Linked DNA regions of Homo sapiens: all the other regions are reported to be linked to region 3. The links are microRNA targets in miRTarBase. Many come from high-throughput screens and were not tested one by one. Region 3 holds a microRNA gene; each other region holds the end of a gene's coding sequence.

Region 1 (7,280 bases), not on the chromosome of region 3:
AGGCTCTGGGCCAGGACAGTTTCCAGTGCTGTGAAGAAACGAGGTGAGCAGTATCCAAGGGGCTCAAGGATAATCTGCTGATTTCTTTCTTGTCTTTCACACAGAGAGGCCACCAGCAGGAAAGCAGTGGGAGTTGGGTAGCTGCTGGGGCCAGCATGTCCTCTTCCACACTACCTGCCTTTCAGAACTCTGCTCTTCCGCTTGTCCCGAAGTCAGGGCTGGCAATCTTCATAATCAAAGGGGAGTTGGAAAAGAACACCCACTAAGAGGCCTCCATGGCAGATGTCAATTAAATTGCCCCCCCGCCCAAATCTCATGACAGTTTATTCACATCAGTAGTGTGGGAAGTTACAATGTTTTTTTTAAAAAAAGCTTCTTTCCTTGGCTTTCCATTTCTTTGAAAAAAGGGTTTCTTTTGAATTTTTAAAGCTCTGCCATACTGAACATTCCTGTGGAAAGGTTTAAAATGCAGAGCCTGAGGTTTTTGCTTTTCAGAAAAATAAAAATCTTAGAGATTAGCTAGTGTAAATGTTAAGCTATAAATTATATTTCAAACTGTGAAAAAAAAAAGTTTTAAAGAATGAATGAAATAAAACCTGAAAATAAAGCCCTGGTCCTTTGTGTGTGTGTCTGCTCCTGCCAAGAAATCAGAGGCTCTGGGTGCTGTGTCCTGTCAGGCTGAGCATAAACAAAACCCTTAATCACAGTCAGGTCTGGCACATATTTTAAGTGACAACGCAACTAATTACACTGGTTCTAACAGTAAACATTATTTAGCAATTCAGAAAAACTACACCTTATCAGCACCACCATTCTCCCCCAATTGTAGCCAGAAGACCAATTTGAAATTTATGCTTTCAGAATATTAACTGTAATTCAATAGCATTCTTCCTGCTTCTGGAATGGGCCAAAAGTAGGATGTGATAATTGTACCACTTGTTCAGCAGTGGATAAGATACCCTACAGAACACACATGCTTTGTCAACAGAATGTCCTTTCAGAGGTTATGATCTTAGAACCCCAAAAGGTATATACTGTACTTTCTCATTTCATGGTGTTCCGTGTATGCAAGGAGAGCTCATGTCCTCTGAAGGCCACATAAGATGGTAAATACCTGAGAGCACTTCATGCATACTCTGATTTGAAGCAATACCTCACAAAGGTGAGAAGCTAAGGCAGTGAGAGAGGTTATCAGGATATCTTGCCCCAGGCAAGAATGCAGAGACAAACCCTACAATTCTGAAGAGCTGGGTAAGTGTTAACAAGGGATTGAGAAGAGATGGCAGAACAGAATGCTGGAGATGTAACCAGGAACAAGGAGCCAAATATGACAGGGTGAATCCCCAGGGACGTGATTCACGTGCTGCCTCCTTGACAACACTGGGGAGGATACTGGGGGAAGTGGAAACCATCTCACCGGCATCAGCTTTTACATATCCAGCATAGGTTTCTTCTGCCCAGTTTCCAGGGAAGCATCAGACACATCCATAGTTTACTAAAAGCAGAGCAAATCCTTGTGATCACTGTTAGCACATCTATCCCCAACTCAATATCCACTAATGGTGTGAGTTGCCAGAGCTTGCATCTCTCTGCACCCCTGAATCCACCCAACCTGGCTGTCAGCTTTTCCAATTCTTGAGAACATTTCCACTGCCCTTTAAAAATTAAGTGGGTATTTTTGGTTTGGCTTAATTACAGAGGTGATAAATCCTTCTTTAAAATTCAGATAGCACTAAAGTCTATATATATTAAAGTATCTTTGGCTAGAGTTAATTAACAAAAACTAAATAAAGTAAAAGATCTCTCTCCTTCCCTCAATCCAGAGGAAACAATAGTCGAATTTGGTGTGTATCCTTCTAGACTTGCTTATGCATATATGAACATATCTGTGTATATATATGCCAAATATACATATTTATCCTATTTTCTTTCTAGTCAAATGGGATTCTATCATATATATTACCCTACAACTCACCAGTCTTTCCTTAATGTGTCGGGAATTATTTCATGTCTACCTATTCCAAAACTTCATTCTTCTTGCCTGCACAATGCAGTCTATAGTATGAATACACTATTTTTTTTTTTTTTTTTAAAGAATTTTGCTCTTGTCACTCAGGCTGGAGTGCAGTGGTGCCATCTCAGCTCACTGCAACCTCCGCCTCCCAGGTTCAAGCGATTCTCCTACCTCAGCCTCCCAAGTAGCTGGGATTACAGGTGTGCACCACCATGCCTGGCTAATTTTTGTATTTTAGTAAAGACAGAGTTTCACCATGTTGGTCAGGCCAGTCTCGAACTCCTGACCTCAGGTTATCGGCCTACCTCAGCCTCCCAAAGTGCTGGGATTATGGGCATGAGCCACTGCGCCGGCTGGGTTTTTTTTTTTGAATACACTGTAATTGTTCACTGAAAAATTACTTTTTATTTCAAATGATATATACAAAAATCATCTTAGGCAAACTTTCTATGTATCAGGCTAGTTCCTTCAACCAAGATGGTTTCCTCCTGTTAAGTAATGCATTCAACTCTACCTCCTGTGAATCTCTTAGTCTTTTAGGGAATTCCATGTTCCACGATTTTGGTGGGTTTTACATAAAATTTATCAGAGATTGAGTATTGGTGGAAGAAAGGGTATTGATAATGTAAAATAAATCTGAAGTTTTAGTGTTAGATTTGGTTTTATAAAGTACACATTATCAAACCAAACTGGGGTCTGCTCATCTGGCACAGCAAAGCCAAGCACTGACGTTGGGACTGCAGCAAGAGGAAGTGAGGCATTTATTGTAGGGCACCAAGCAAGAACTCCAACTCCTCAATGGCTTACAGGTAAAGGTTTTAAAGGTGGGGAGGCAAGCCTGGGTACAATGGTTCACACCTGTAATCCTAGCACTTTGGGAGGCCAAGGTGAGAGTATCCCTTGAGCTGGTTTGAGATGAGTCTGGCCAACATAGTGAGACCCTGACTCTATAAAACATTTTTAAAAATCAGACAGATGTGTTGGTGTATACTTGTAGTCCCAGCTACTCAAGAGGCTGAGGCAGGAGGATTACTTGAACCCAGGAGGTTGAGGATGCAATGAGCAGCTGATTGCACTACTGCACTCTAGCTTGGGTAACAGAGCAAGACCCTGTCTCAAAAAACAAAAACAAGAAAACCCCAAAAAACCCACAAAGGTGGAGAGGCAGAGGTTACAGGCAAAGTCATAAATCAATACACGGAGGCTATATATTGGTTTGATGTAAAAGGTGGGACATCTTGAAGTAGGGGCCAACAGGTCATAGGTGGATTCAAAGATTTTCTGATTTGCAATTGGCTAAGGAGAAGCTTTGTCTAAAATTTGGGTCAACAGAAAAGAATGTTAGCTCCAGCTCACAGGCATGACCTCCTCCAGGCCCCTCGGGAAAAAATTCAGAACAAAGAACGGCAGCCCAAGTTGTCCTTGCTTATCTGAGGTCTACATGCCAGCAAATCCACTTGGTGGGGATCTGAGATTCTGAAAACAACTCAGGGACATATTTTAAGATGTTATCTTTAGTTTCTATAGGGAACCAAGCATCTGGACTCTTAACTTCCTTGGCAATTGTTTTAAACTACACTTACCTTCTTGCTTATCAAGTTGCTTATTTACGTCTCAGCACTACCCTGGAAATTCCCTCAAAGGAATTCAAGATTTTCCTTTATTTTCAGGCTCAGGGCGCCCACAGGCCTTTAAGAAGGGGTCCCGGCTCCATCTCACACACATAGGTAGGTTAAATTCCTTTGATGTTACAGGCTAGTGCTTGCCCAGGTAGTTCTGTCTGTACAAATATTTTTCCCTTGGGTACCTCATGTTCTGAATGGATTTTTTTCCAACTAAACAAAGTGAACTTACTAAATAATGTAGTTGCCCCTGTTTTTATTCATCAGCAATACCTAAGGAGGCCAGGCATGGTGGCTCATACCTGTAATCCCAGCATTTAAGGGCCAATTACAATTCCTGATCAACATGAGATAATCAGGTTATCCCTTTGATTTGATGGTGTTCCAGCAAAGAAATCTGATGAAAAACACTCAATATCTTCACCATATATAAAACATCATACAAATATGAATACAGGACATTCTGAAATGCTTTCTCCTAATAAATACAGCTGGTGTCTCAACCATTTTTTCTAATTGGCTTGACTCTTAGAAGCACACTTGCTTAATGCTTTATATTTATGTAGTACTTTAGAATTTAACATTTATTACCAACGTTACTGAAACTTCTCAATCACCACTGAGGTTAGTAGAGGAGGCACCTCTATCTTCATTTATATATAAGGAAACAAGTTCACAGAGAATCCTTGCCAAGTTCATACAGCAAGCCAGTAGCAGAGCCAAGATTCAAACACAGCTCCTTGCCAACCTGTTAATACTTGTTGAGGGGCTAATTGGTTTTCTTCAAACTGTCTCCCAAGTTTCCATAGCACATCCTTCAAACTCCAGGAAATTCAGGTTAAAACATTAAACTAGAAAATGTAAATAAATACAAGGCATAAGAATTGCTACCACAGCAACTAAGCTACCATTTTCCCACACATTTGCTTTAGTTTCTACAATTCTTTAGGTCGGTACTGGCTACTCACTACAGCGACGTACCAAACAGGGAAAGTAAGACATGAAGAACGTAAAGTCTTCAGTTATCCCACTCTACTCAGATGGGGTTTAAAAGAACAGACGGTAGTATCTGCACATGTATTCTCAGCCATTCTACTCAAGGTGTGGTCCTGGTCCATGATTTGTTACTGATTCATGACAAGCAGAGAAATAAAAAATAAAGCATTCAGAAATGTTTATATTTGGGGGGGCTGGGCACTGTGGCTTATGCCTGTAATCCTAGCACTTTGGGAGGCCGAGGTGGGCGGATCAATTGAGGCCAGGAGTTCAAGACCAGCCTGGCCAAGATGGCAAAACCCTCTTATCAAAATTACAAAAATTAGACGGTCGTGGTGGCACACACCTGTAATCCCAGTTACTCGGGAGGCTGAGGCATGAGAGTCATTTGAACCCAGGAGGCAGAGGTTGCAGTGAGCCAAAACAGTGCTGCTGCACTCCAGCCTGGGGAACAGAGTGAGACTCTGTCTATAAATTCTAGTATTTGATGCAATTTAATCAAGTTATAATCAAATAAATGGGGCTTTTATTTTGTATCTTTTCAAAATTTCATTTTAGGAATTCATTTTTATTAGTTTACCAAAGTATCAATCTGCAATGGGAGAAGTTTATATAAACAAAAACTGGTCATTCAGCAAAAGTCTCAGACTCACTCTTCTAGCCTGAGCCTTCAAAATCACATAAAAGACTCCTTATGTGAGTGGAATTGTGCAGATTAGCCTATTGACCAAGGCAAATTTTGCAGGCAACAATAATTTTTGAAGCACTCAAGATTTTTAAATAACTGCAAATTCATACCAATTATTTTAATTTCCATGGATAGAAAGATGCAAGATCTTGATCAGAAGGGGAAAAAAGCACAAAGTTGTTCTATCGTGGCCCACAAGCTCCATTTTTCTTTAATGAAAACACGGTGGAGAAATACAAAGGACTTTTATTACTGCACAGTCATCTTACAAATTGTTAAAGCAGGATGTCTGTTTTAAAAATTGAAAGCCTTACTTATAAGGAGAGCTTGCCTATATGATACTACTTTCAGTGTTACCAAAAGGCTTATGAGCCTAAATCTATCCTCATATTAATGGGCACACTTTAGGCACTTTTTCCAAGAAGTGCAAACCTGTTCCTTGGAAAAGATAACCCACTAATCCATTAGTTTTTTCGCTTTGAAAAAGCAGAGAGCTGATGGAAAGGCCTTAATTGGAGAAAGCAATCCAGGGCTGCTGGGTGGAGGCTGGAGAATCCCAGGTGGAAGGCTGGGCATGAGCCATACACTAGGTGTCTCAACTGGTGAGGTCAATCAAGTGGGAGAACAGACCAAAAAAACTTGAGGACGCCCTAAAGAGATAATCTGCCTCCTATTGCCTTCAGCTGTCCTTTCTGAGGATGTTCTTAAATTACCTATGTAGGTTAGACCCAGGAAAGCTTAAAGGAGACAACTGGAGGAAGAGGTTATCAATAATTTAGAGTAGGCTGGGCATGGTGGCTCACGCCTGTAATCCTAGCACTTTGGGAGGCAGAGGCAGGTAGATCACTTGAGCCGAGTTCGAAACCAGCCTGGGCAACATGGAAAAACCCTGTCTTTATAAAAAATACAAAAATTAGCCAGGCGTGGTTGTGCATGCCTGTGGTCCCAGCTACTCGGAAGGCTGAGACAGAAGGATCACCTAAGCCTGGGAGGTCAAGACTGCAGTGAACCATGATCACACCACTGCACTCCAGACTGGGCTACAGAGTGAGATACCATCTCAAAAAAAAAAAGTTTAGAAAGTATTTGGGGGGAAAAAAAGGTATTTGGAGATTTTTTTAAACCACATACTTTATTTGATGTCAACATCAAAGAAGGAATATTTTAAAAAGCACATAGAAACCCTTAAGTTAGTAATATTTTAAACTGCATGAAAAACATATTATTTTACATCTTGTCATACTGTATATACAACTGTACATAAACTTCTGCATTTCAAAGCACTTGTCATTTATAAAGTGAAAAGTTTGAAAGTGCTAAATAAACATTTCCTAATTATTATTTTTAAAAACAGCACTCTTTTGGAAGTTATCTCTTCTTTGTGCTTATAGTTGATCTGCAAACATTTCAAGTCAAAGTTTCTGGAAACTTCTTTAGGAAACATCTGGAAAAAATCATAGTAGACAAGGGCTAAGTGCAGACATAAGCAGCTCCATTTTATAAACAAAATTTCGACCTTCCATTTTATTCCACTGAACTTCTTTGAATGGCCCACGAAGATGACTCCATTTGTTATCTTGTAAAACATCACTTTTTGGAAGGTCTTTACATTGGTTACGAGGAAACTGAACCATAATCTTGCTGCCACTTTCAGGTCCATTACGAACTGTGGAGAAAAACCAAAATATCAATACACTCTAGTTTACCAAACTAGAAATAACAAGGATAAATCCCACAACTCCATTCTACTGTGAATACAAAAACTTTGTCTACCAACTTAAATATTCTTGTAAAAAAGTGCTTTTTCAGTTTCAACATGCAAGAGAAAAACTCTAACTTCTATATAAGAGGATGGTATAAATATTCATGAATTATTATTTGTACCACAAAGATTAAGCAAGGTGAGTTTTGACCTAGGAATGTCAAATGTCCTCTATAATTTCAGGAAATCATCTTTTTG
Region 2 (7,304 bases), not on the chromosome of region 3:
TGAGATGAAGAAGAGAGATGGAACACTTGTGGGAGAGAGGCAATTAATGTTCTTGTTATAACTCTTCATTCCCTTTTCTGAGGAATGCCTGGGATAGCCTCCACTCTCCTTGATAACTTCCAACTTCTGGTATGGGGAGGAAGACAGCACCTTGTTAATGAAGTAACCACCTGTTGATGAAGGAAGGCTATTGTATCGTCTATCACAAAAACTCAGCTTATGTTTCTAATAACTATTTTTATTGTATTATTTTGTTGAAATAGAAATGACTTTATTATTTAACGAGTTGCTGATTTATTTATTTATTTTGCAACTGAGCACATGGGTTGCTTTTGTCAGTAACAGTGCTATTCCTTCCATAGTACTTTGAATACTCTGCTCAACATGAAATTCGGCACAACATCCAGAAGGAATTATGTCTTCATGCTGCTCAAGGTCTCGTTCAGCTGAAGGCATGTACCTACAAAGGTCACAAGACAGTTGTCACTGGAGAGCAGATATGGGAGATCCAGAAGGTACCTCAGTGCAATTAATTCATCTATTTAACTATTTTTCTTAGCTCTACTTGCTTATCTGGGAAAATGAGTGGAACATGGTACATTAATATTATCTATCAGAATTTCTCTCCCTTTATTAACTTTGTTATTATGTGTTTCTACCCATGTGATAAGAGAATATATCTATGAATTAAGTACTCTTAGTAACAAAAAATTAAGTTGCTTGGTTGAACCGTGATATATGCAGATGAGCACTTCTGTGAATTATTAATATTAGTCGCTTGTTTTTTACTATTTAGGGTTTCTTATAATGCTTTTAGCAACAGTCATATTTTTTTTCTGTCAGAGAGAAGAAAAATTATTATATCTTCTCACTTGAAGTGATTAATTTTTTTCTACCCTGTTTTAGCACTTTTTCACAAACCTAGAATTGAGAGAATACATAACAGGTCTCTTCTGTTTTTAAACATGTTTAAGGCTTAGCTGTATCATAGCAATTCTTACCTGAACATTGTTTTGTGCAGTACTAGAAAACGTTAACACTGGCTTTTATAATTTATGATGTTTTTAAGAGTTTGTCACTTATGGATATATCAAGGGAATACTTCTTGTTTGAAAATGTGATTCAAACCTTGTTCTGTCTGCCTCTCTTCATTATGTAATATCTTACTAATTGAAGAGTAGTAGCTTAAAAGGTGGCATTTACACTAGAAGCCAAAAAGAGTTTATCAGACATGGCTCACCTTAGAAAGATTTGCTATTAGGTTTGCTTCAATGAAACCATAAAATCTTTTTCATATTTGTCACTTAACTATGAGTCTTGGAATTTAATGTCTGTTGTTTCCTTTTATTCTAGGATCAACTTCTATACAATCCATTCTTAAAAATGTGCCTTTCAGCAAATGGAGAGCATCCAAGTTTAGTGTCATGCAACCCATCAGATCCACTCCAAAAATGGATACTTAGCCAAAATGATTAAGTGTTCCTTAAAATTAAGTTGAAAAAGGAAATATTCTTTCTCATAAAACTGTGACTAGGCATACACTGTAGTTTTTGAAAATTATGCAAAAGCAGCTAAATGTAACTTATTCCAAGTGCATTTTTCTTATTTATATCTTTATGTAGCACTACTACAGAAATTCTGCAAGTTTCTGTTTCAAAGCACAATAACTAGTAATACCAAAGACTATTTCAAAATGTCCAGATGTAGGGGAAGAGATGTTTACAGTATGATGAAAATAATTTTCCAAGTAAAGTGATGTTTGTGTGTTTTGTACACTTAGGGATATATATATATAGCTACATTCACACACTCACAATTTAAAATATTTCCCCTAGTTTTTTGGGGGGATAGGAAGAAAGATTTGTTACTGTATTTTTTTAACTACATAAAAATAGATCAATAAATGTCAGCATTGGCCTCTGTGTACAAACCAAGAGCTTTTACAGATCCAGAATTTATTAGTTTAAAATGCAGGTGAACTTTTTTTTGCGTTTGGTTTACTTGTCTGTCAAATGTTTCCTTAAACATGAAACTGAATAAGGAGAAGAGTATTTTTAACACTTAAATTTCTTGGCAAATTTTAAAACATTTTTTAGTCTGTAATACACTCCACTTGAAGCACTTAAGTCTTCCTTAAATGACTTTTCTTAAGTAATGATACTGTGTGTTTTCCCAAAGCACTTTTAAAAAAATTTTTATAAATTACTATCTGTTGAAAAGGTGTCCTTTTCCTTTCTTCTAGTATTTTTTTCTTACCAAAATTCACTAATCTTGAATGTTTGTGATATTAAATTTCAAATGCAGAATACTTGACTCATTTAAAGCTAAATTTTGTTACTGATTCAATTATAATTGTAATGGATTTTTGACTTTGTAATGGATTCTTTTCATCAAAAAGCCTTATTTTTTTATCTATGTGGAAAACACAATAAAAAATCCTCAACACTATTGTAATCATTTGGTTAAGTTTTTTTCCTCTTTTGGGTAAAATCTGTAATTGATAATAGGTGGGGGAAAATGAATTTTGTATGCTGAATTTCTAAGCGCCTATTGTTTGTAAAACCATCAGATATTTCTTATGGCACAAAAAATGAGGAATAGCAAAATTCCTGTGTTCAATATTTAGAAAATTTTGTATTAATTTCTGATAAAGTTCCTTAAGCATCTGATAGAATGATGTTTTAAAAAAATTTGACGCTTGCTTAGGAGATTTACCACTTTTTTTTTTTGTTTTTCGTCATTTTATATTTAGATCTCCTGTATTCTTGTTCCCGAAGTAAAATACGATCGGTTTCATATTTTAAATCTGGCAGAGCCTCAGCTGTACGAAAAAGAGCATATACTGGTTATTGACCCTATCTTCTCATTGTTTGTTTGTAAGTTTGAATTTGTATTAAAAAGCCTGCATTCTGAGCTGGACATGGTGGCTCAGCTTCTAATCCCAGCACTTTGGTAGGCAAAGGTGGGAGGATCATTTGAGCTCAGGAGTTCCAGACCAGCCTGGGCAACATAGCAAAATCTCATCTCTACAAAAAGTAAAAATTAAAAAATGAAATTAAAAATAAAATTACCTAGGTGTGGTGGCACGCATCTGTAGTTCCAGCTATACAGGAAGGTGAGGCAGAAGCATTGCTTGAGCTTGGGAGATCGAGGCTACAGTGAGCTATGATTACACCACTGCACTTCAGTCTGTGTGACTGAGCAAGACTCTTTCAAAAAAAAAAAAAAAAGCCTACATTCTCCAGTTGATTATTTCAACTAATGTGTATTATGTGCCTAATTTTCTATCAGAAGTTGTATTAGCCCGTTTTCACACTGCTGTTAAAGACATACCTGAGACTGGGTAATTTATAAAGAAAAATAGGTTCGATGGACTCACAGGTCCGCGTGGCTGGGGAGGCTTCACAATCATGGCGGAAGGTGAAAGGCATGTCTTACGTGGAGGGAGACAAGACAGAATGAGAACCAAGTGAAAGTGGTTTCCCCTTATAAAACCGTTAGGTCTCGTGAGACTTACTCACTACCACAAGAACAGTGTGGGGAAAACCACCCCCATTATTCAATTATCTACTACTGGGCCCCTCTCACAACACGTGAGATTTATGGGAGCTACAATTCAAGATGACATTTGGTGGGAACACAGCCAAACCATATCAGAAGTGATGGTAGGCAGAGTAAGACTTGTTATTACTTTTGAGCTATGTCTCATGGGTCAGAAAGAAAGGCAAATAATTTTAAAGTAGAAGGTAAGTACCACTAGGCATGAATATCTATGAGCATATATTTCTCTTAGAGCTTATTATATCTCTAAACACAAAATTATTTCTCAAAAATATTTCATAAATGAACTTAAACATATTTTCAAAAAAACCAAAGTGAGTGCCCTGCATGTATCACTCATATGTTGATATATCATGATCCAACTGAAATCTACTTAGAGTAGGTTGATATTATTATGGGAAAGTCCTTCTTACCTGATTTGGCAGCCTCAGGCTATTGCTCAAGTGTCATACAAATCATGTCATTAAGGACTGGACCTTTAGGGTAGGTAGTGCCTTTTAAAAGTCTTGAGTTTTGGAACAATGATAACCGAGAGTTATTTATGGAACCTGGCTGCCATCCACCTGAGACTTAACTGCACTCAAGTGTGAAATTGTGGAATTCTTGCTCAATTTGAAGCTGCCATGGCAAATGGTCTGGTTGCTACAGAAGACCTGGCATGCTGCCTTCATTCCAGAGCACCAAGTCCTAAGAACTCTCGGTTGGTAAGCTGCACTGCCAGATCCACTAGGGTTAACCTGATGGGCAAGTTCACTGAAATCTGAGAGGGGATCACAGAGTTAACTATAGGAGAAAATAAGCAACACACTAAAATTGCCCATTACTATAACCAATGATGATGGATTTTTTAAGCCCCTATATTACCAGAGACTAGTATTGGACAATTTAGTTAAGTACTTTATATACCATCAAAATATAAGTGCAAAAAGGACAAGGTTGACTTTATCGGAAGGACTAGAAAAAAATCATTTTTAAAATGCTGTTATGTGTAGATGAGAATTGTAAAAGATAGGGAAAACAAAAAACTAGGCAGATTCTGTACTCAGATTGCTTCACAATTCACTTTAAAGACAGCAGAAATAAATATCTTTAGACAATGCATTTTTAGTATGCTTTGTGCAAGGAAGATGTTTGCAGAACTCTCAGAAACCAGTTCATACTCAGATAAAAGGCCTTGGGCCCTACAAAAGAATATCTGTGAAGGAATTAATACACATACAAATGTGGCATTGTGTGTGTGTGTGTGTAGTGTGTATGTGTGTGTGTGTAGTGTGTATATTTTAAATTAAAATATTTGACATCTTTTTATGAATTTATATTTTAATTACCTTTTCCAAATTATCAACCTACCCAATCTTCCCTTTTCCAGTCCTACAGTCCTACTTTTTCCACATCACCAGCCCAACTGCAAAAGAGATTCCTCCTGCACGCCTAGTCCCTCTCGCTCTCTAGGCTTCCACAACACCTAGGAAATTTTTTGTGTCTGTTTTTGGGATTTTATTAGGCACCAGGCACTAATAATATACAAAATAGTCCCCATCTGAAGGCGGAGAAAGTTATAGTTTAGTAATGTGGTCACCAATGTGGTCTCATAATGATGTTTTAAAGAGAAATAGTCCCATGATGAAGTCAACATATTCAACTTCTGGTGAGTCCACTGACAGGAGCTAGAGGAGAAAACAGGCACCCCATATTTTAGAGGTAAATAATTGAAGTAATGCTTCTTAAACCTTTTTGTACACACAATAATAAGATTCTGATTGATTAAGAATCAATCAGTTTGAATAAGATTTTGATTCATTAAGAATCAATCAGATTGAATAAGATTCTGATTAAGAATCAATCAGATTGAATAAGATTCTGATTGATTAAGCCTGGGGTAGAGCTTGTAATTTTGTATTTCTGACAAACTTTCAGGTGATACCAAAGCGGCTGGCCCTGGTACCGCGCTTTGAATAGAAAGGCTACCCAGTGAACCAATGCCCAGGGTTCTTCGAGACTACCATGATGACTTTGACCATGCTTGACATCCATAATTACTTCTAGTACGACCAGAAGTCAATGCCTCTCTATCAACCATTATCATCATTATTCTTCCCTGGCAGATCCTACATCCTTTGTATATCTCTAAGTTGATAAATCCCCCACCTTCTGATAACCTTCTACTCTGCAAACTTCTTTGATTAGAAAACTCTATTATATCAGCAATTTTGTCTCTGAAAATTCTACGTATTGTCTTGCCTTAACTGAACTGGACATTAATTAAGGATAAATCTTCCAATTCTAGTGAGGGTTATTGTTTTTTGTTTTTGTTTTCTATCATTCCTCTTGCACTTCAAGGCTAGGATTTGGGATAGGTGTGTCCTTCTTCAAAAATGCCCCAGCTTATTTGAAGCCGTGTCATGTGGATATATTATGCTCTACCCCTTCGTGCTGCTGTCAACCATGAATTTATAGGTCATTTATCTTAATTCATTCCCTGCATTAATTGAATACTTTAGTTCCTGTTGGCCTTTCTTTCTTTATACCTCTACTTGTGTCACCCTATGGGTGACTTCATTATTGGTGCAGATAACTCCAGCATTCTGAGCTCTCTGTATTTGACAACCACATTTCCTTCCCTCAACCACACATTCCCTGGTCATCACTAGAAACTATATCTTCTCTAACATCTTGATCACCTTAACGTCTCTGACTACCACCTCCTTTCCTAGCTCATTTATGCTAGTTCTTGCTCTCTAGAAACTTTTTCTATCTCTTCAGGACTTCTAAACCATTGATTTTGCTACTTGTTCACTATCATTCTCCTCTAGTCTATACTTTTATTCTTATCCAGAATGGTTTTAATATTTCCTCATTGTAACAATGACAGTGAAAGAGTTCACTGTCAATTCATGTGTCTGTTTCTCCATCGTGCTTACCTAGAAAACCCCAAACCCTGGATAAACCAAAATATTTGCTACCACTACTTCTGCATCCAAACAATTGTCAGGCTGGGCACATTCACCATCTTTCTGGGGAAATCCTGTATCCTCTCTCTCTTTCATATGTTAGGTCTCCTGTTTTGTGTATACTATAACTTCCTCTTTCTTGGTTAACTTCCTCATTTTGGAGGAGTACATTACACAGTAATATTCTGGGGAACGGTTTAGGATGCATACAGTTTTTGAGACCCTTATATCCAAAATACCTGTATTCTACCCTCACAATTAGAAGGTTAGCTGAGTATAGATTTCTTGGATGGATTTTTTTTCAATATTTTAAAAGTTTTGTTTGTTTGTTTTTCTAAATTTCAGTATTGATAACTCCAGTCTATTTTTGATTCTTGGTTCTTTGTTAGTGATTTTATTATTTTCACTCTGAATACTTATAGATATCCTATTTGCCACAATGTGTTAAATTTCACTGTAAGTCTTATATTACAGTATGCTTTACTGTGCTCTTTAAATACTCACGTAATTAAATTATGAAATCTTTTCCAAATATTTATTAATTTTATCCTTTGTATTCTCAGTTTCTCTCTGGGAATCTTATTATATCAGACCATTAACATATTGATTCTCTAGTCTATATAGGAGGGCAGCTTTTCTGATCTATATTCCGTATCTTTGCATATCCAGGATGTATTCTTAATGTACTCCTTTAAGCCTTCTATTGAGTTTTTCTTTTCTGTCATTTGTAATTTCCAAAAGCACATTCTTGTTCTCTGAATTTTTCTTGAATACCACTATTATTTTGTGAAT
Region 3 (7,000 bases):
ACAGAAAGCTTCAATAAACTGCAGTCAGTGTTTGGGTATTTTATATGTACTTCCACAGTCAGCGTTTGGGTATTTTATATCTACTTTCACAGTCAGCGTTTGGGTGTTTTATATCTACTTTCAGATGAGAAAGAAGCTGAGATGCTCAAGAAACTGTCCAACAGGGTGAGGGGTCATGGTGAACTGGTGGTGCAGGAGGGATGTGAGCTGAGACCTGTTCCATGCCAAAGTCTGCGCTTTTTCCGCTAGAAAGAGGAAGGATAAAAATCCCAGTGTGCCCATCCCCACAGGAATTTGAATGTACCATGTTAGGAGAAGACAGCGTTATACAAAAACTGGCTTCAAATCACTCTCCAAGCAAGTCACTTCTTAGTTTTCTACACAAAAAGTCTAGGAGAGGGACCTAACACCTGGAACCTGGCACCTAGGGTGTGTATTCTGTCCACAGCACATCAATCAAACTCAGTCACCAACTGAGGGCCACCATCTCCAGGCCCTCACACCGGGGAAGCACACTGCTTTTCCTAGGTTTATTCACTCAACCAAAATAGATGCGCTGTCAGTGGAACTCCTAGGATGACTACATAGACAGACATCTTCTATTGGTCTTCCCCCACTCACCCTTACCCCATGTCTGAGCTTAGATGACAGAGGTTTTTCATTGATTTCATTTTCTGAATAGATAATACTTTCCCAGTTCAAAATTCACATGGGAAAGAATTTCACATAGGAAGGGGAAGAGTGAAGTCTCCCTAACCCCCCTCCAAGTTCCCATTTGCAGAAACATCCAAAGTTACTGGTTTAAAAATGCAACTTTGTGCTATTTCTCCAAATTAACAGAATTATCTAGATAATACTATGATATCAAGCTATCTACCTGACTAGAATATTCTAGGTGATCACAATAAATTTAGTACCTTTTAGGTTATTTTAAATATCCCTTAAATACTCATGTAGACGTTTCCAACATATTAAAATGACTGAGTGAGGGTAACAACATTTTTTAAAAGAAAAAACATGTTAGTAAGATGCATGGTCACGACAGATGACTGTGAACTCTGGCTGTTACGAACCAATCACTGTTGAGTACTGAGCTCACCTGGTTCCTGTCGCGTGCATTTGTGTACCTGATCTTCTGAATGAAGTAGAATATGAGCCATGCTGAAGAAATAATCATCAAAACAATAAAGGATATTGACACGAAGACTAGAGAGCCACGGCTGAAGTTCTTCGGTGGCATTCGAGTTCCAACAGCTATTGTCATTTGTACAGAGATGTTTTTCTCCAGATAACTCAAAATATCCTTACCCCTCAATTCTGTTATCATGACAGCAATAATATCTCCAGTGCCTGCAATATAAAATAAATATATAACTCAAGTGACATTTAAAACTTATGGAAACATCAAATGTATCAACACGCTACTTAGGTAACTACTATAATGTCTGGTAATGGAAAGGGTATGCAAACTCCACTTCTCAACTGAAATGTAGATGCAGCTGGGTATGCTGGCACCAAGTAGGAACATGTAATTTGTTGTGTGGTACTTAAGACTTAAACAGACATAAGGCATAGAACGACTGCAGTGTTAAGAACCATATTAACTTGTCTGACAACTACATTTTTAAAAAAAGATTATTAAACCAGCCAAATGTGACAACAGACAGCAACATAACATTATACAGCAAGAGAAGTGTATCAACATCATGGTAGATTTACACTGTAAAACCTTTTCTATTTTAAAATGATCTTCAGAAAGTCTTAATTCCTTAAGAAATGGAGTAAAGTGCTGTTTTTATAGCATAAATTGGTACTTCTTGCACTAATCTAGGAACATTCATGGAGTACCCACTGTCTGTAGAACTAGTGCCAGGAACAAAAACAAGTACAGGATACCAAGCTTTCTAATCTCACTGAGACAGGGGACACACAGCTGGTAACAGAGCTACAAAGTGCCAAATGGTGCCACCTTTTATTAGTGACATCTGAAACTAACTTGGGTCTTATGTCCAGACTTGAGTGGAGTTGAGGCTCCTTGCTAGTTTACCCCAGAACTCTTCTGGAAATCAAACGTTCCAGAGACAGGTCCAGGCTTCAACATTCTGGACCAGTTTGGCATCGAAATACCTCCAGCCTCTAACAGTTGTCCAGAGGTCTGCCCACAAGCACAGGCTATGCAAGTTAATTACGAGGACAGTCTTAAGTTGCCTTATAGTTACCTAGACCTTTCCCCTACATAATTTCCAGAAGTAGTAACAGTGAAGGAATTGAATACCTCTTCCTATGGACAGCAGGAAACTGCTATCCCTTTCCTCCTCCACAAAGGAAATAACTTCCCACTGTCTTTTAAGGAAACAGAGAAACTTCTATCAATCTATCAGCGATTGTCCTTTCATAAGCTGAAGCTGCCGGTGGCAACATGTAGCTTCTACATTTGCCTTCTCCAGAGAGCCCCTGAGAGAGACTAGGGGTCATTAGAAGGGAAATAAATATTTTATTTTGGGAAAGAGAAAATTATAACCACTTATTTGAATTTGAATAAGGTTTGTACATATCAATGTAAACCAACAAAACAATCAAGCAGAAGTCCCCAAAACTTGTCCTTTTCAATCCTTCTTCAATGAATAACACATTGAAATATTTGGTTTTACATGTTTCATTTACCATATTTAGCTAAAAGAACCATCTTTGTGTTACATGCAGTCACAGAAGACTACACGCAACTGAAAAGAAATTCAACAGGGCTGGGCGTGGTGGCTCATGCCTATAATCCCAGCACTTTGGGAAGCCAGGGCAGGTGGATTGCTTGAGCTCAGGAGTCCAAGACCAGCCTGGGCAACATGGTGAAACCCTGTCTCTCACAAAAACAGGAACATTAGCTAGGCATGGTGGCACATGTCTGTGGTCCCAGATACTCAGGAGGCTGAGGTGGGAGGATCACTGGAGTCCAGGAAGTTGAGGCTGCAGTGAGCTGAGATCACGCCACTGCACGCCAGCCTGGGTGACAGAGCAAGACCCTCAAAAAAAAGAAGAGAAATACAACAGTAAAAGGAGTTTTATGGAAAATGTAACCCAATGGAACATATACCTTTTTACTACCTTACTCAAAATTGTTACAGCCACTTTATTAGAACAGCAGTTTACCAGAATACCGATTAAAAATCTACAAAAAACTATAAAATTAAAGCAAGCAATAAACATCTAATTAATATCTAATTACCTTTCTGAAATAAGAGTTGTGATCAGTAAATTAGAGACAATCACAAAATAATGCTAAACCGCTTTAAATTTCCCTTTAGAAATCTCTTAAAATGTTGTTCAACGGGCCATGATCTGTGGTATAAGATACCAGGTATGGCTATAAAGTAACTGAGACGGATCCCACAAACGACATATGACAATCAGTCTCATTGCTTTATAATCACACCAGGTACAAACGGTTTTAGAAATCAGTTGAGGCTCCCTCTTGAAGACTCAAGCTGGAAAAGGAGTAGGGAAAGGAGTAGGGAAAGGAGTAGGGAAAGGAGTAGGAAAGGAGTAGGGAAAGGAGTAGGAAAGGAGTAGGGAAAGGAGTAGGAAAGGAGTAGGGGAAGGAGTAGGGAAGGAGTAGGGAAAGGAGTAGGGAAAGGAGTAGGGAAAGGAGTAGGGAAAGGAGTAGGGAAAGGAGTAGGGAAAGGAGTAGGGAAAGGAGTAGGAAAGGAGTAGGAAAGGAGTAGGGAAAGGAGTAGGAAAGGAGTAGGGAAAGGAGTAGGGAAAGGAGTAGGAAAGGAGTAGGAAAAGGAGTAGGAAAGGAGTAGGGAAAGGAGTAGGGAAAGGAAAGCTGAACAGGTAGCCAAGGAAACCAATCCATGTGATTCTATTCAAAGAACACTAAATAAGAACACCAACTAATTTCAACGGGAAAGCTGTTTGGGAAAAGAAGTGTGTAATTATTTCAACCATCCATTCAACAATATTTATTGAGCACATACTATGATCAGGCTCCTTTCACCTCTTAAAGAGAGTAGAAAATTACCTGCTCTTGATGCAAAAATCCACACGCCCTCAGGAGCAAAGGGGGAACCTTTTGGACTAGGAAGAGAAGCCGCTCGCGGTGGCGTCATTACACCAGCACAGAGAAGAGCCGGGCAGAGGAGCCCGACCCTGCCGATCGGGCAGGAGGACAGCAGAACGAAAGCCCGCCACCAACTTGCAAAGGACTGGAGTTTTAGGTCTTAAATCTTTTACAGAATCTGGCGAAAGTTATATAGGAGTCCCCTCCTAGGAGAAAGGGCCTTCTCCCCATACTCCACCCCTAAAGCCTGATAGGGCTCAAAGACCCTGACCTAAAGCTGCCTCAGACACTTGACTTTTAAGGATCTGAGGAGCTCTGGCCCAGTTTCACGCCAAAGGAAATGTAGGCTTCACAATAAAGGGCCGGTCAGAGGAGGCAGTGACTGAAAAGAGTGAAGAATAATTAGACTGTAACGCTGTAAATATCAAAGCACATTTGGGACATGCCCCACCACTCCCATGTCCCAGGCCCTGGGCAAACACTGCTAGTAAGTCACGGATGCGGCCACGCTCCCACGCACTTCCACGTCTGGCCGCCAGTACTAACTGTCAGAGATGGCAATCCAGTGAAAGCCCATCTGTGATCCCTGCTTCCAACTATTTTCTTGAGAAACTTCCCCCACTGTTATTCTTTAACAGGAACTTCTGTTTCCACACTGCTTGAGTCTGGCTACTTTAATAAACAATTCTATTCTTTCCACTTTCATCCTGAGAATTTTCAAACCCATAGAGCAGTTCCAATACTGTGAGAACACTCATGGACCTTTTATTTAGATTTGTCAACATTTTGTCCTTTCTATATGTATTTATTTTTGCTGAACCAATTAAGAGTAAACTGCAAACACATGACATTTTATTCTTAAATACTTCCACGGTCCCTCCTAAGAACAAGGCTAGCTACGTGGCCACAATTCATTTACTTATCCTCAAGAAATTTAACCCTGTGTTCTTTAATAGATGGTCCATTTTCAGGTATCTGTGGTGATGACTTTAATAGCTGTTTAACTTGTTTAGTTTTGTGTCCAGGATTCAATCGGGGCTGTCGGCATCATGCTTAGCTGTCATGTCTCATTAGTCTCCTTTGATCTAGAATAGTTCCTCAGTCACTTCCGGTCCATTCATCACAACACTGACCTTTTTAAAGAGTCCAATCCAGATGTTCTGACCATGCCCCTCAATCTGGATTTGACTGTTTCCTAATGATTAGATCTCCAAATTAAATATTTCTAGTAAGAATACCACAAGGTGATGGCGTGTCCCTCCTCAGCTCGTCACTTCAGGAAGTGCAGGCCGGGTTGTACCTTTATTTTTGGTGGCAAATTTTATGACTTGGTTATTTTGGTATCTGCCAGGTTTCCTCACTGTAAATAAATGTTTTCCTCTTAATTAATAAGCAATCTGTGGGCTGATACTTCCAGATTGTGTGACTAGCCAGTTCCCCAAAAACCTTTCACTCAATGCTCTCAGCATCCACTGGTGTTTGCCTGAATCTGTTACGACAATGGTATTTGTAAAATTCTAATTCCCTAATGCTGTGATTTCTTCTACATTTTGTAAACTGATTCTATAATCAAAGGCATTAACAACACTTTCTACTTATCTTTGTTTCCCATTAAAAAAACAGAAATGCTGGGTGGGCAGTTTTTCGGAAAAGAGCCCCCCATCCCCATCAATTCTATTTTTTAATGAGGAAAAAAAGTGGGAAAATATGATAATACTGCTATAATCCTGACTACAAAATCAGTTTTGAGAGGCCAACAGAAGGAACCTCAGAATTAAGCTCCTTTGGGCTCCGGAATCGGAGGGTCTAGGTTCAAATCCCAGCATGGTACTTTAACCTCTTTGAACTTCAGTTTCTTCTTTCAAAAAATGACAAACTACCTGCAGGCTTCACAGCAGATGTTCAGTAACTGCTGCAGCGTAATGAGCTGTATTAGTCTGTTCTCACACTGTTACAAATAAATACCTGAGACTGGGTAATTGAGAAAGAAGAGGTTCAGGCTGGGCGTGGTGGTTCACACCTGTAATCTCAGCACTTTGGGAGATCAAGGCGATGGATCACCTGAGGTCAGGAGTTTGAGACCAGCCTAGCCAATATGGCGAAACCCCATCTCTACTAAAAATACAAAAATTAGCTGGGTGTGGTGGCAGGCGCCTGTAATCCCAGCTACTCGGGAGGCTGAGGCAGAAGAATTGCTTGAACAAGGGTGGTGGAGGTTTCAGTGAGCCGAGACTGTGCCACTGCACTCCAGCCTGGGAAACAGAGTGAGACTCCATCTCAAAAAAAAAAAAAAGAAAAGAAAAGAAAAAAAGAAAAGAGGTTTAATTGACACACAGTTCCACATGGCTAGGGAAGCCTCAGGAAACTTACAATCATGGCAGAAGGCACCTCTTCACAGGGCAGCAGGAGAGAGAACGAGTGCAAGTTGGGGAAATGTCAGATGCTTATAAAACCATCAGATCTCATGAGACTCACTCACTAGCCATGATTCAATGACCTCCGCCTGGTCCCACCCTTGACATGTGGGGATTATAGGGATTGCAATTCAAGGTGAGATTTGGGTGGGGACACAGAGCCAAACCATATGATGAGCTAATCCTACTTGTATTATTACTCACAGAAAGCAAAAGAAAATGTTGTGGGAAGAAAATCAAAAGGCCTCTAACCACAGATTTTTGGATGCCCATTCTCTCTTCGCCCCCTGCCCACTGCTCAGAAAATGCCCAGGGATCTGCTGACCAACACAGTCCTGCCAGCTACAAAAGAATTTATGCTTTAGTTTAGAAAGTGAGTCTACCCAGCTGGGAAGAGTCTGATCTATGCCCTCACCCTCTTGGCTTCCCTCCACTCCTCCTGGGAGTAAACCCCGGGGCAAGCCCAGTGTAGCTGAGCAGCTGATAAAGGAAGATCCAGGAAGAGAACAAATGAGCTGTCTGAGGCACCAGG

Evidence for each region. The annotated mature microRNA hsa-miR-340-5p reads UUAUAAAGCAAUGAGACUGAUU and lies in region 3 at 3,400-3,421, opposite strand. An mRNA with a match to its seed (bases 2 to 7 or 8) in the 3' UTR can be bound and repressed. Matches are read on the target gene's strand: a 7mer-m8 pairs with bases 2 to 8, a 7mer-A1 pairs with bases 2 to 7 and ends in A, and an 8mer does both.
Region 1: the mRNA of MED17 is a reported target of hsa-miR-340-5p. Seed matches in the 3' UTR shown: 8mer at 6,612-6,619 and 7mer-A1 at 6,216-6,222.
Region 2: miRTarBase lists GALNT3 as a target of hsa-miR-340-5p. Seed matches in the 3' UTR shown: 7mer-A1 at 2,195-2,201.

The regions. Positions count from the first base shown.
Region 1 is chr11:93,811,559-93,818,838 of GRCh38, reverse strand. MED17 (mediator complex subunit 17) reads right to left here. Exons shown (of 12, transcript NM_004268.5): 12 at 3,876-6,986. The coding sequence ends at 6,775. VSTM5 (V-set and transmembrane domain containing 5) reads left to right here. Exons shown (of 4, transcript NM_001144871.2): 4 at 1-607. Among named protein-coding and RNA genes, the nearest start is that of MED17, 31 kb to the right of the region's middle.
Region 2 is chr2:165,742,953-165,750,256 of GRCh38, reverse strand. It overlaps GALNT3 (polypeptide N-acetylgalactosaminyltransferase 3), which reads left to right. Exons shown (of 11, transcript NM_004482.4): 10 at 363-515; 11 at 1,354-2,669. The coding sequence ends at 1,476. Among named protein-coding and RNA genes, the nearest start is that of GALNT3, 48 kb to the left of the region's middle.
Region 3 is chr5:180,011,962-180,018,961 of GRCh38, forward strand. It overlaps MIR340 (microRNA 340), which reads right to left and starts at 3,436; the gene lies at 3,342-3,436. It overlaps RNF130 (ring finger protein 130), which reads right to left. Exons shown (of 9, transcript NM_018434.6): 3 at 1,100-1,350.